Linked DNA regions of Homo sapiens. The protein of the gene in region 1 purifies or fractionates together with the protein of each later gene. This does not show direct contact. Each region holds a gene or a part of one and is shown in the gene's direction. Other genes may lie near its edges. The genes, in order: PKP4, INAVA and PCDHGB1.

Region 1 (3,650 bases):
AGGAACCTGTCCTATCGGCTGGAGCTGGAGGTGCCCCAGGCCCGGTTACTGGGACTGAACGAATTGGATGACTTACTAGGAAAAGAGTCTCCCAGCAAAGACTCTGAGCCAAGTTGCTGGGGGAAGAAGAAGAAAAAGAAAAAGAGGACTCCGCAAGAAGATCAAGTTAGCATTTTATTTTATATGAGACTCTCAAGTTTAATTTTTCTGGGAGTGAGGAATCACATATTTGGCAAGAAAATAAATTTTCTGCATAGCTATAGCTGAGTCCCGCAAAGGTGAATGTTTTCAAGTATTGGAGATCATGTTCATTCTGCCTCCATTTAACGTGTGCTGTTTGTCTTTCAGTGGGATGGAGTTGGTCCTATCCCAGGACTGTCGAAGTCCCCCAAAGGGGTTGAGATGCTGTGGCACCCATCGGTGGTAAAACCATATCTGACTCTTCTAGCAGAAAGTTCCAACCCAGCCACCTTGGAAGGCTCTGCAGGGTCTCTCCAGAACCTCTCTGCTGGCAACTGGAAGGTAGGATGACTTCCACTTATCTACACTTCTTTCCATCTTTGCAAACTAACTTGAAATGTTATATATATATGTTCTGCCTCAGTCAGATCAGCCCTGATGGTGAAAGGGTCACAGCTACTTAGCTTGTGTGTGAAGGGGTTAAAGGGAAAAAAGGGAGACAAGCAGTTGCTCTGGGGATACAAAGATAAATACAAGTCCCTCACTATGAGAAACAGAAGGCTAGTGAGAAAAACAGATGGTGCCAGCACAGTGTAGAAGCCACAGGATGTATGTGCTGTGGGGTCCTGAAAGAAGACATCTAACCCAGCCACACAGTGTAAGGGAAGGTCAGGAAAAGAGCGGAGTAAGGACGTGGAGGAGATTTCCTGAAGGGGATGCTGCCCGGCAGAATCTCTGAAGATGAGTGAAAGTAAGCCTGTAGAGGCTGAGGCTGTGGTATGGAAGGAGCCATCCAGATAACAGGGACAACAGGAGGAGGACAGTCTTGTGGTGCAGAGAAGACGTGTGGGCCAGGACTACTGGCTGCCCACTGGGGCCCACCATGGAGCCAGGCATCATGGATAGGCCTGAAGGCCAAACTTCAGGAGCTGAATCCTAACCTACACACAGGAGGGACTACCGAAAGAGTCTGGGCAGATGAGTGACAGAGACGGGCTAATATCATCACTGCTCCCCCACTTCCATGGCAGTGCAAAAGGTGGATTCGAGGAAGGGAGAGTTAGAAGCAGGGATTGGATTTGGGAGCCAGTGCAGCAATACAAAGGTGAGAAATCTTGAGTGGCAGGACAGAACACAGGTTGGGCAGCACTGTGGGGAGGGATAGAGGACCTCTGTTCCTCTCAGACCGTTACAGACATGCCTGTGTCTAAGGTTTCTGCATCTTTTTGCAAATGTATGAGTATGAAAACTGAAGACAGTTTCCTTTTGTTACCACTGTAAGCAAGTTCTCAGAACTTTCTAAATGTCCCCCAGCAACTTCCCAGACAGTCCTTGTCTGAGACATTTTCAACCTCTAGTAATTTCTTGACAGGTGTATTTTAGTAGAGTTACTACAATGCTTGCTGTGGGCTTCTTCCCCCACCTTAACCCCCCAAAATGAGAATCTTTTGGTGATGGTGTTTTCAAGATAGTGAAAAGCATTGATAAGCCTAGGTATGGTTTGTTTCGTGCACGTGGCCACTATGTTGAATATAGAGCGATAACTATGGTCTAGTGCTAAGCCGGTGTGGTTATTTTGTTGTGGCTCCTAGTTAAAGTGCCAGTGACTGAGTGTGTAAGTGCTGGCTCTGAATCCAGGCCACTCTGCTTACCGTCTGGCAGCCTAGGGGCTCTGCCCACAGTTTCCACCTCCCTAAAATAAAGTGAATATTAATACCTGCCTTATAAAGTGGTTATGAGGATTTAGTGAGATACTCCCAGCACATAAGTATTTATAAACATTTATGTTGTAGAACAGCGTTCACCTTCAGCTTCTGTGACCAGAGGATCATTTGATGATAATAAAAGACAGTAATTGAAATCGATGTGATTTGACTTATTTAGAAGTTCATGTCTGGGATCATTTAGTGAGAGAGTTAGATGGCAAAGCTCATTTAAAATATAAACATTATATCTAAGCGATTTCAATAGTGAGTTAAAATATTGGACCTTCACTAAGAAAATGAGATAATCGTGGCCACAGATGTTATCAAGTAAGAAGCTATTTCAGGAGCAGTGATGACTGTAGTTCTCCAGAAGGGAGACGGGCTGGGCTGGGCTGGGCTGGTAGGTCTCCAAGTGAGACAGAAGGAGATGGTTCTGTTGTTGCAGGTTTCAGAGAGAAGTTCATAAAACTGCCTGAGTGCTTTGCCTAGTAACCAGTCATGTACTTCATTTTCCCCCCATAGATTTCATGTGATTTGAAAAATAGGAGTATGCATTTCATATGCAGAATATAAATAGGATCTTTGAAATGCATCTTTCCCTCTTATTTGTATTATTAAAATATTCTGTTGGTATTCAAGAAACTGGATGGTCAATCACATATTTTAATGTTCGAAATAATACAAAGGGCTGGTAGATCTCTGTCCTACTGTCTTGGTCACAGCAGGAAAGTATATGTTTTATGAGCAGCATCTTTCAATTACCCTAAAATTTGAAAGATGATTTGCATTGGTTGAAAAAGTCAATTAAAGCTCAAAGCTGGAAACAAGATTAAAGAACCGTTTTCTAACGTTACTCTTTTTGGTTGTTTCACTGATGACTTAGCGCTCATTTCCATTTTATAAGATATACAAACTGACTCACAGTACAGAGTTGCTTCATAGTCACAGAAAAATTTCTTGACTATGGATTTTTAAAAAACAGCATCAGCAGCTAACTAATCTTGAGTGAGAATGCATTTTGCACACAAATATACTTACTTTTTCACCAGGCTGTATGAATTATGATGCTGGATGTTTCTGGAGATTTCCCTTTCTTCTGAGGCAAGGGATTTTTCCAACTAATCTCTTTGACAGGTTTCTGAACTCGAAATATTGTTGCAGGGAATATAGAAAAAAAATGACTTGATGGAGACAGGTTCTCCTTTCATGTGTGCTGATGGGTTACTGTCTCTGCCATCCTATTTATAGCCTCTGGGTTTGGCAGGGGACCAACTGCAAAGAAAACACACGATCCTTCCTTAATCATGTTTATGTATCTGAGATAGAAAGTAATCACTGCCTTCTCTTTTCTGCACAAAAATATCTGGCAGATGGTGGTTTGAGATTTTCAGGCTTTGGGATTTCTTTTTAAATCAGTCATTCCAGCCTATCTTTCTCCCCAACTTTGGTTTTCTCTTCACTGACACCACAGATTTGATCTTCAATTGGAAAGAAACCATTTAATCTATTAGTTCATCTTTTGGAAACATCTTTTTTAGGTGACAGTAACATATGAGACTGGAACTCTGTTTTATGTTACTTCCTGCCTTATTTTTCTCACTAGTTTGCAGCATATATCCGGGCGGCCGTCCGAAAAGAAAAGGGGCTCCCCATCCTTGTGGAGCTTCTGAGAATGGATAACGATAGAGTTGTTTCTTCCGTGGCAACAGCCTTGAGGAATATGGCACTAGATGTTCGCAACAAGGAGCTCATAGGTATGTTCTG
Region 2 (3,650 bases), on another chromosome or scaffold:
CTTCTGCCTTGGTCTCCAGAAATGCTGGGATTACAGGCGTGAGCCACCATGCTGGGCTTCCTTCCTCCTTTCTTTGTTATCCCATCCCATTTTTTGTCCCCTTCCTTTTTATCCTGTCTCTGCTCTTTTCCTTCTTGCCCTTCTCCCCAGTCGAGCGGTTCTTGTGGCTACCACAGCTGTCGACCCCCTTAGGCCTAGAGGACTTTGGCCCAGAGGGGAGTTAGGCTGGGCCCCTGAGAGCCCACTGAGAACAGGGTTTGCTGGTGAGGCCCACAGCCCCTTCTCTAGGTCAGCACCCCCAGTGCCAGAATCTCCTGCCCCAGATGGTTCCTGAAGCACAGTCCTCCCTTCCACTCCCCTGCTCTCAAGCATCTATTCAGCTTTTTGTAACCAAGATGGTTCATATCTAGCTTTTTTGTTATTGTTCTCTTTTCTCTTTAAAGCTGGGGAAGCTCCAGGCTACCTACACAACCTGGCCCAGGCTGGTCACGGTGTCCCCCCTCCCTGCTCTGTGCCCTCTCCTTCCAGAAATCCACCATGGAGAGTAAGGATGAGGTCAGCGACACCGACAGTGGCATCATCCTGCAGTCTGGTGAGTGTTCAGGGAAATCCCCCTGCCCTAGTCCCTAGTCCCTGGTCCCTGGTCCCTGGCCCTGACTCCTGAGTCCTGAGCCCTCAGGCACTAGGGCTGGCTGGGCTGAGACTCCCAAGGGCTGAGAGGAAGGGGAGGGAGAGGCCTCTGCTGGGAGGAGGGGGAGGTTCTGGAAGGGCTGGAGCCTCAGGGACATGTGGAGTTTTCCTCCCTGGAGAAAACTGGCTTGGAGTTTTGGTTCTATCTGGAAGAGGGATCTGCAATGTTCAACTTTAGCCCCAGCTGAGAAGTTGAAAAATCTCAGGCAGGCACAGTGGCTCATGCCTGTAATCCCAGCACTTTGGGAGGCCAAGGTGGGCGGATCACAAGGTCAGGAGATCGAGACCATCCTGGCTACCACATAGTCCCAGCTATGTGGGAGGCTGAGGCAGAAGAATCGTTTGAACCTGGGAGGCGGAGGTTGCAGTGAGCCGAGATCGCGGCATTGCACTCCAGCCTGGGCGACAGGGCAAGACTCCGTCTCAAAAAAAATATATCATCTGGCCAATGTGAAGGTCTTGCCTCTCTGTTTGGCCAGACCTGTGGGCCTAGTCTGGCCTAGTCTTGACAGAGGACAAGAAAGAAGAGGCTTATGTGTGTGTGCAAGAGAGAGGGGTAGTGGGGAGAGGGAGAGAGAGAGACAGGAAGAAGAAGGAGAAGGAAAAGAGGAAGAAGAAGGGAGGAGGAGTGGGGGGAGGACTGCACCGGCAGAACTCCCTCCCCTGCACTCCCCCACCATAGGTCACCTGGTGGGACGACCCTCCCTTCTGAGTTGTAACATTTGTGCAGCCAAGAGACGTGGTGTTTTGTGGCTGTGACACAGGCCACAGCAGCCAGCCTGCAATTTGTGGGCAGGCATGAGATGTGTGTGTGTGTGTGCATGTGTGTGCATGTGCATTCCCCTAGGGGTGGTCAATAAGTAACGGAGGAGGCTTCCATCTTCAGCCTCCCTGAGCATGTGCCCCCCAACCCTTGCAGGCCCCGACAGCCCGGTCTCCCCAATGAAGGAGCTGACCCATGCAGTGCACAAGCAGCAGAGGGCCCTGGAAGCGAGGCTGGAGGCCTGCCTGGAGGAGCTGAGGAGACTCTGCCTTCGGGAAGCGGTGAGGCCCCAGCCAGCACACACAAGCATCGGGTTCATCTCAGGAGCTGTGGAGCCACGTGTGGGGATGCGGGAGCTGGGGAGAGGGAGCCCCATTCTTGAGGGAATTCTGGACATCAGGCTGGGGGCTGGGGCCCAGAGTCCCCATGATGCAGTGTTTGACCTTGTGCTGGATGGAGAAGAGTCAGACCCAGGCAGGGGCCCAGGCACAGAGAACAAAGTTCATCAGGGGCTGCAGAGGGACTGCACAGACATAAGTGCATATGAGTGCTGTAACCCGGGTCGGTGTAGCTCTGGAGGAAGTGATCAGAAAGAGGTCTGAAGGGAAAGGGGAGGAGTGCAGAGTGGGTCTGAAGACAGGAGAGACAGTGTGGAGGATGGGATGAGGTGGGGTGGAGGGTGGTCCCACCAGGGCTTCTATGGAAGGCAGGCACATGCAGTGCAGGGGCCAGTGAGCCAAGTCTGGGCAGGTGGAGAGGACCTGGCTGGTCTCTGCTTCCTCCCCAGGAGCTGACGGGCACCTTGCCAGCGGAGTATCCCCTCAAACCAGGGGAAAAGGCCCCCAAGGTTCGCCGCAGGATCGGAGCGGCTTACAAACTGGATGACTGGGCCTTGCACAGAGAGGTGAGGAACCTCAGGAAGCTGCCAGTACCCCTCGATCCCCAAAGCTGATCACTGAGACGCCACACCTCAGCTCAGTACCCTGGCAGGTTCCCTTCCACCCTTTCACACCCAGTGAGGGTGCTTGGCTGCCTGTTGGTGAGAGACACCATGAATATGTAGCCCAAATGGCTGTGGAGAAGGGGCGCCACTAAGGAACCGAGAGCTGGGAGCTCAAGGGAGGACACTGGGTTTGACCCCATTGGGCAGAAGATCAGTTAAGAGCACCAGCCACCAACCCAGCGGGCAATAGCCTGCTCAGACAGGTTACTCTGGCCCCTAGGGCTGTCCTCCTTTCTCAGGAGGAGGTGGGGGCAGTCAGGCCCTGGGTGCCCTTCCCCTGTGGCGTCAATGGCAGCAGTTTCCCATGGGCCAGCCTGCCCCACCCTTTGGGGTCAGGAGGGAAAGTGTCCCACTTGGGTTCCCACCCTGCCCGGTTCAGCAGGTGGGCTGGTGGGTGGGTGCCCATGCCAGCTTTTCAGGCTGACAAGTTTGCTTTTCGGCTCCTCCCACTCCTTCACCCTCTGCTCCACGTCCGTCCATTGGTGCTGCTGTCTGCCTCTCTTCTGTCCTCAGGGCTTAGGACTGGGACCTAGAGCACTGTGTCAGGGCTGCTGTCCACCCTCTGGGCCCCCAATCTCCCTGCCTCTCTCTAGCCTCACTCCTGCCCCCTCTCTCAGGACCCCCTAAGCAGCCTGGAGCGCCAGCTGGCCCTGCAGCTGCAGATCACAGAGGCAGCCCGTCGGCTGTGCCTGGAGGAGAACCTCAGCAGGCAGGCTCGGCGGCAGCGGAAGCACTCCATGCTGCAGGAGGAGAAGAAGCTGCAGGAGCTCCAGCGCTGCCTGGTCGAGCGGCGGCGCAATAGCGAGCCACCTCCGGCTGCTGCTCTCCCCCTGGGCCGAGGTGAGCCGGCTGCCCTGAGGGGGGCCATGCTCCTTAAATGAGCTTTTGAGGGATGGTGGGCGCACAGCCCCGTGCCACTGCCTTTGCATTTGGCTCCAGCTGGGTAAAGCTGATTCTTGGGTTCAGCTCCACCCCATCCTGATTCTCTCCAACTCCAGCAAGGCTTCCCCATCCTGTGAGGTCTTCTTCTCCGTCTCCTTAGAAAACACCCTACTCTCTCCTTCCGTATCCTCCTCAAAATACACTACCTTCAAGAGACTTCCTACACAGAGATATTTCTCAGCTGACCCTGAGCTGAATCCAAGGTGTATTCAACTGGGTAGCCCAGGCTGGCCCCGCTGCCCTCCAGGCCCA
Region 3 (3,650 bases), on another chromosome or scaffold:
CATTGTTCTAGTGATGGTATCTACTGCGGGAGGGGGTACTAGATAGATGGAGATTGCTTTCTTGATTGCTCAGTAGTCTTGGCAATTTAATTTTCAATCTTTACTGTTGGCATTTCTGTATGGTTGGCAAATCTTGCTAAAGAGACCTGTTTCCTAGATGTTAACACTTAGTAATAGCAGTGCCTTTTCTTAGTTGATATGCAATACTATATTTTCAAGTCATTTTATTCTTAGCTCTTTATAAATGTATTTAGAGTTCTTCCCACCCAAGTTAAAGTTCATCAATTACATTAATTATGTAATTGATGTAATTATGTATTAATGTAATTATGTAATTAATGTAATCTTCATCAATTACATTCTAGTTTGTCTTTTTGCAGCAACATGTATGTTTAATACAGCCTTCCAATTATTAAGACTCTTAACACTTTGTCTCATCACAAGTAGCAAATATTGTCCAATTTTATATTTGCATCACTAACTTTGAGTCAATATTATTCCCACTCTATAATTTCAGTCAATGATATTTCATAATTTTCTTAACCATTCCTAAATTATTTGTTTTTATGCTCTTTCTATTTTGTCTCTATTAAAACAAAGAATGTAATGAACATTTGGGTTTATAAAGCGTTTTCCATACTTCTTGTTTCTTTAGTGTAGATTTCTGAGGAATTAGTTAAATCTATAAACATGTTGAGATTTTTTTAATGCATACTGTCAAATTTATTTCCAAACATCTTATTTCACCTCTCAATCATCCGCAGTTTGTGCGGTCTTTGAGGATTGTGAAAAACACGTTTAATCTACTCTCTCAAAGTCTGAGGGTTTTTAAATTCTGTATAGCTAATGCCCTTTTGTATGAGTCATTTCTACTGCTAATTGTTAAGTGAGGAATAAGCTTAAGAACTGATGTACTGCTTTATCTCAAATTTTCACAGATTAGTAAATTACTGTAAGTATTCATAAGAAAGAAAGCGATGGCACATGCAATGATAATCCATGTTCGGCTACCAAAACATTTCCTTTTACTGGCTATTTCTAAAATGAGAGCTAAAGTAAAGTTAGAAATTGTAAAATAATACTGAATGTGTCATGTGAAAAAATCACTAAACTATTATCTGCACTTTATAGTTATTCAGTCTAACTTTTCTTTTTATTTCTTTTTTATTTTTAAGATCAGAGTTATTTACCCATTGTTTTAGGCTTTGCATTTGAACTGGTCATTCATGAAACATTGAAAGGTTTCATAAAAATTACTACTCTATGAAAGGTATTGTTCTAAAGATTGAGAACACATTGTGAACAAGATAGTCATATGCATAGCTTGTGGCCAAGAATCTACTGTACACAAAATTAAGGAGCAAATTCTCTTCCCAAACCTATTATCCTATTTGTCAATCTCATTTGTACAGGGTAAGGCTAACTCTTGAACAGTAGGTGAGTTTTTTGCAAGGGAATTGAAGCATTGCCCCAGGTTCTAGAGGGTCAACTCCTGTGAGGAAACTTGTTACTGCATAAATTGGGACTAAAGCCAGACCTCCAAGTTCCTGTCCCACTGTCTTTTCACTTATCTGTCTCATCCATTTTTCAAGTCCACCTTTGTCTTTAGGAGAGATAATTATGTCCCTCACACAATACGCTATACTGAGAATGGGCTGTGGGGATGAACAATGTGAAAACTGAAAAGAGGAAGAACACATCTTAGGAAAAAAATCGTCATATTTTCTCTAAGAAAATAAATAACTTCATAAAGTTTATTGTACAGGAAGACTTGGATCATTCTTGAATTTTCATTGCAAATCAAAAACAGGAATTTGACTTTATTATCTTGGGAGAAATAGGAATAGAAAAGTGTATAAAAAATAAACTTTTTTTAACCAAGAATAAATTGCAGTAACAGGTTAAGACTCTGGGTGTCGCTGTTCACCAATCAGGGGGAAAAGACAAACCAGAAATTTAATCAGAATCACAAGATTTCTGCAGCACAAAGCACTGGCTCTGGAGCTTTATGAAAGCTTCAAGCGGAAGCCCTGAGAGCTCTGGCTGTGAATGCACTTTATTTTGGACCCAGAAGATCCTGGGGCTCCTCAGGCCTCGACAGAGGGAAAACCGAAGCACAGGCGACTCCGCGGCGGGGTTGTAATGGCGGCGCCTCCTGCTCGCCCAGACCACACCCGGCTGCTCCAGATCTGCCTTCTCCTGGGGGTTCTGGTGGAAATCAGGGCCGAACAGATTCTCTACTCGGTGTTTGAGGAGCAGGAAGAAGGCTCAGTGGTGGGCAACATCGCCAAGGACCTGGGGTTGGCGCCCCGGGAGCTGGCGGAGCGCGGAGTCCGCATCGTCTCCAGAGGTAGGACGCAGCTTTTCGCCCTGAACCCGCGCAGCGGCACCTTGGTCACCGCGGGTAGGATAGACAGGGAGGAGCTCTGCGACAGATCTCCAAACTGTGTGACAAACCTGGAGATTCTTCTAGAAGATACAGTGAAGATTTTGCGGGTAGAGGTGGAAATAATCGATGTTAATGATAACCCACCCAGTTTTGGGACAGAACAGAGGGAAATAAAAGTTGCTGAAAATGAAAATCCTGGGGCAAGATTTCCTCTTCCTGAAGCTTTTGATCCGGATGTAGGTGTAAACTCCCTGCAGGGTTACCAGCTCAACTCAAACGGTTACTTTTCCCTGGACGTGCAAAGTGGGGCCGATGGGATTAAGTACCCAGAGCTGGTGCTGGAACGCGCTCTAGATCGCGAGGAAGAGGCGGTTCACCACCTCGTTCTCACGGCCTTCGATGGAGGTGACCCGGTTCGCTCTGGCACTGCCAGGATTCTCATAATACTTGTGGATACCAACGATAATGCTCCCGTGTTCACTCAGCCCGAGTACCACGTAAGTGTTCGTGAGAACGTTCCTGTAGGCACTCGGCTACTCACCGTAAAAGCCACTGATCCAGATGAAGGAGCCAATGGAGACGTGACGTATTCTTTCCGGAAAGTAAGAGACAAAATATCACAGCTATTTCAGTTGAATTCTCTGAGTGGGGATATAACAATATTGGGGGGTCTAGATTATGAGGACTCTGGATTCTATGACATAGATGTAGAAGCCCATGATGGGCCTGGTCTCCGAGCTAGAAGCAAGGTACTGGTGACAGTTCTGGATGAAAATGACAACGCACCAGAAGTCACAGTTACATCTCTCACCAGCTCAGTCCAGGAATCTTCTTCCCCGGGTACAGTAATTGCACTTTTCAACGTGCATGACAGTGACTCAGGAGGAAATGGCCTAGTCACATGTTCTATTCCAGATAATCTGCCATTCACACTTGAAAAGACCTATGGAAATTATTATCGGTTGTTGACACACAGAACACTGGACAGGGAAGAAGTCTCAGAATATAACATCACTGTAACTGCCACTGACCAGGGAACTCCTCCACTGTCTACAGAAACTCATATTTCACTGCAAGTGATGGACATCAATGACAACCCACCCACTTTCCCTCATGCTTCCTACTCTGCTTACATTCCTGAAAACAACCCCAGAGGAGCCTCCATCTTATCTATGACTGCTCAAGACCCTGACAGTGGTGACAATGCCCGAATCACTTACTCCCTGGCCGAAGACACCTTCCAGGGTGCACCTCTGTCCTC

What was found.
Region 2: the proteins of PKP4 (region 1) and INAVA purify together in Homo sapiens (co-immunoprecipitation; one large-scale study listed by IntAct). This does not show direct contact.
Region 3: the proteins of PKP4 (region 1) and PCDHGB1 purify together in Homo sapiens (co-immunoprecipitation; one large-scale study listed by IntAct). This does not show direct contact.

The regions. Positions count from the first base shown.
Region 1 is NC_000002.12:158,662,924-158,666,573, forward strand, and holds part of PKP4 (plakophilin-4), read left to right. Parts: coding exon 1-165; intron 166-348; coding exon 349-522; intron 523-2,924; exon of another isoform or gene 2,925-3,158; intron 3,159-3,489; coding exon 3,490-3,640; coding exon of another isoform or gene 3,641-3,650. UniProt on the Homo sapiens protein: Plays a role as a regulator of Rho activity during cytokinesis. May play a role in junctional plaques.
Region 2 is NC_000001.11:200,897,864-200,901,513, forward strand, and holds part of INAVA (innate immunity activator protein), read left to right. Parts: intron 1-443; coding exon of another isoform or gene 444-537; coding exon 538-592; intron 593-1,609; coding exon 1,610-1,734; intron 1,735-2,240; coding exon 2,241-2,357; intron 2,358-3,073; coding exon 3,074-3,296; intron 3,297-3,650. UniProt on the Homo sapiens protein: Expressed in peripheral macrophages and intestinal myeloid-derived cells, is required for optimal PRR (pattern recognition receptor)-induced signaling, cytokine secretion, and bacterial clearance.
Region 3 is NC_000005.10:141,353,059-141,356,708, forward strand, and holds part of PCDHGB1 (protocadherin gamma-B1 isoform 1 precursor), read left to right. Parts: intron 1-1,962; exon of another isoform or gene 1,963-2,049; coding exon of another isoform or gene 2,050-3,650. Other genes in the region: PCDHGA4 (protocadherin gamma-A4 isoform 1 precursor), read left to right, coding at 2,050-3,650. UniProt on the Homo sapiens protein: Potential calcium-dependent cell-adhesion protein. May be involved in the establishment and maintenance of specific neuronal connections in the brain.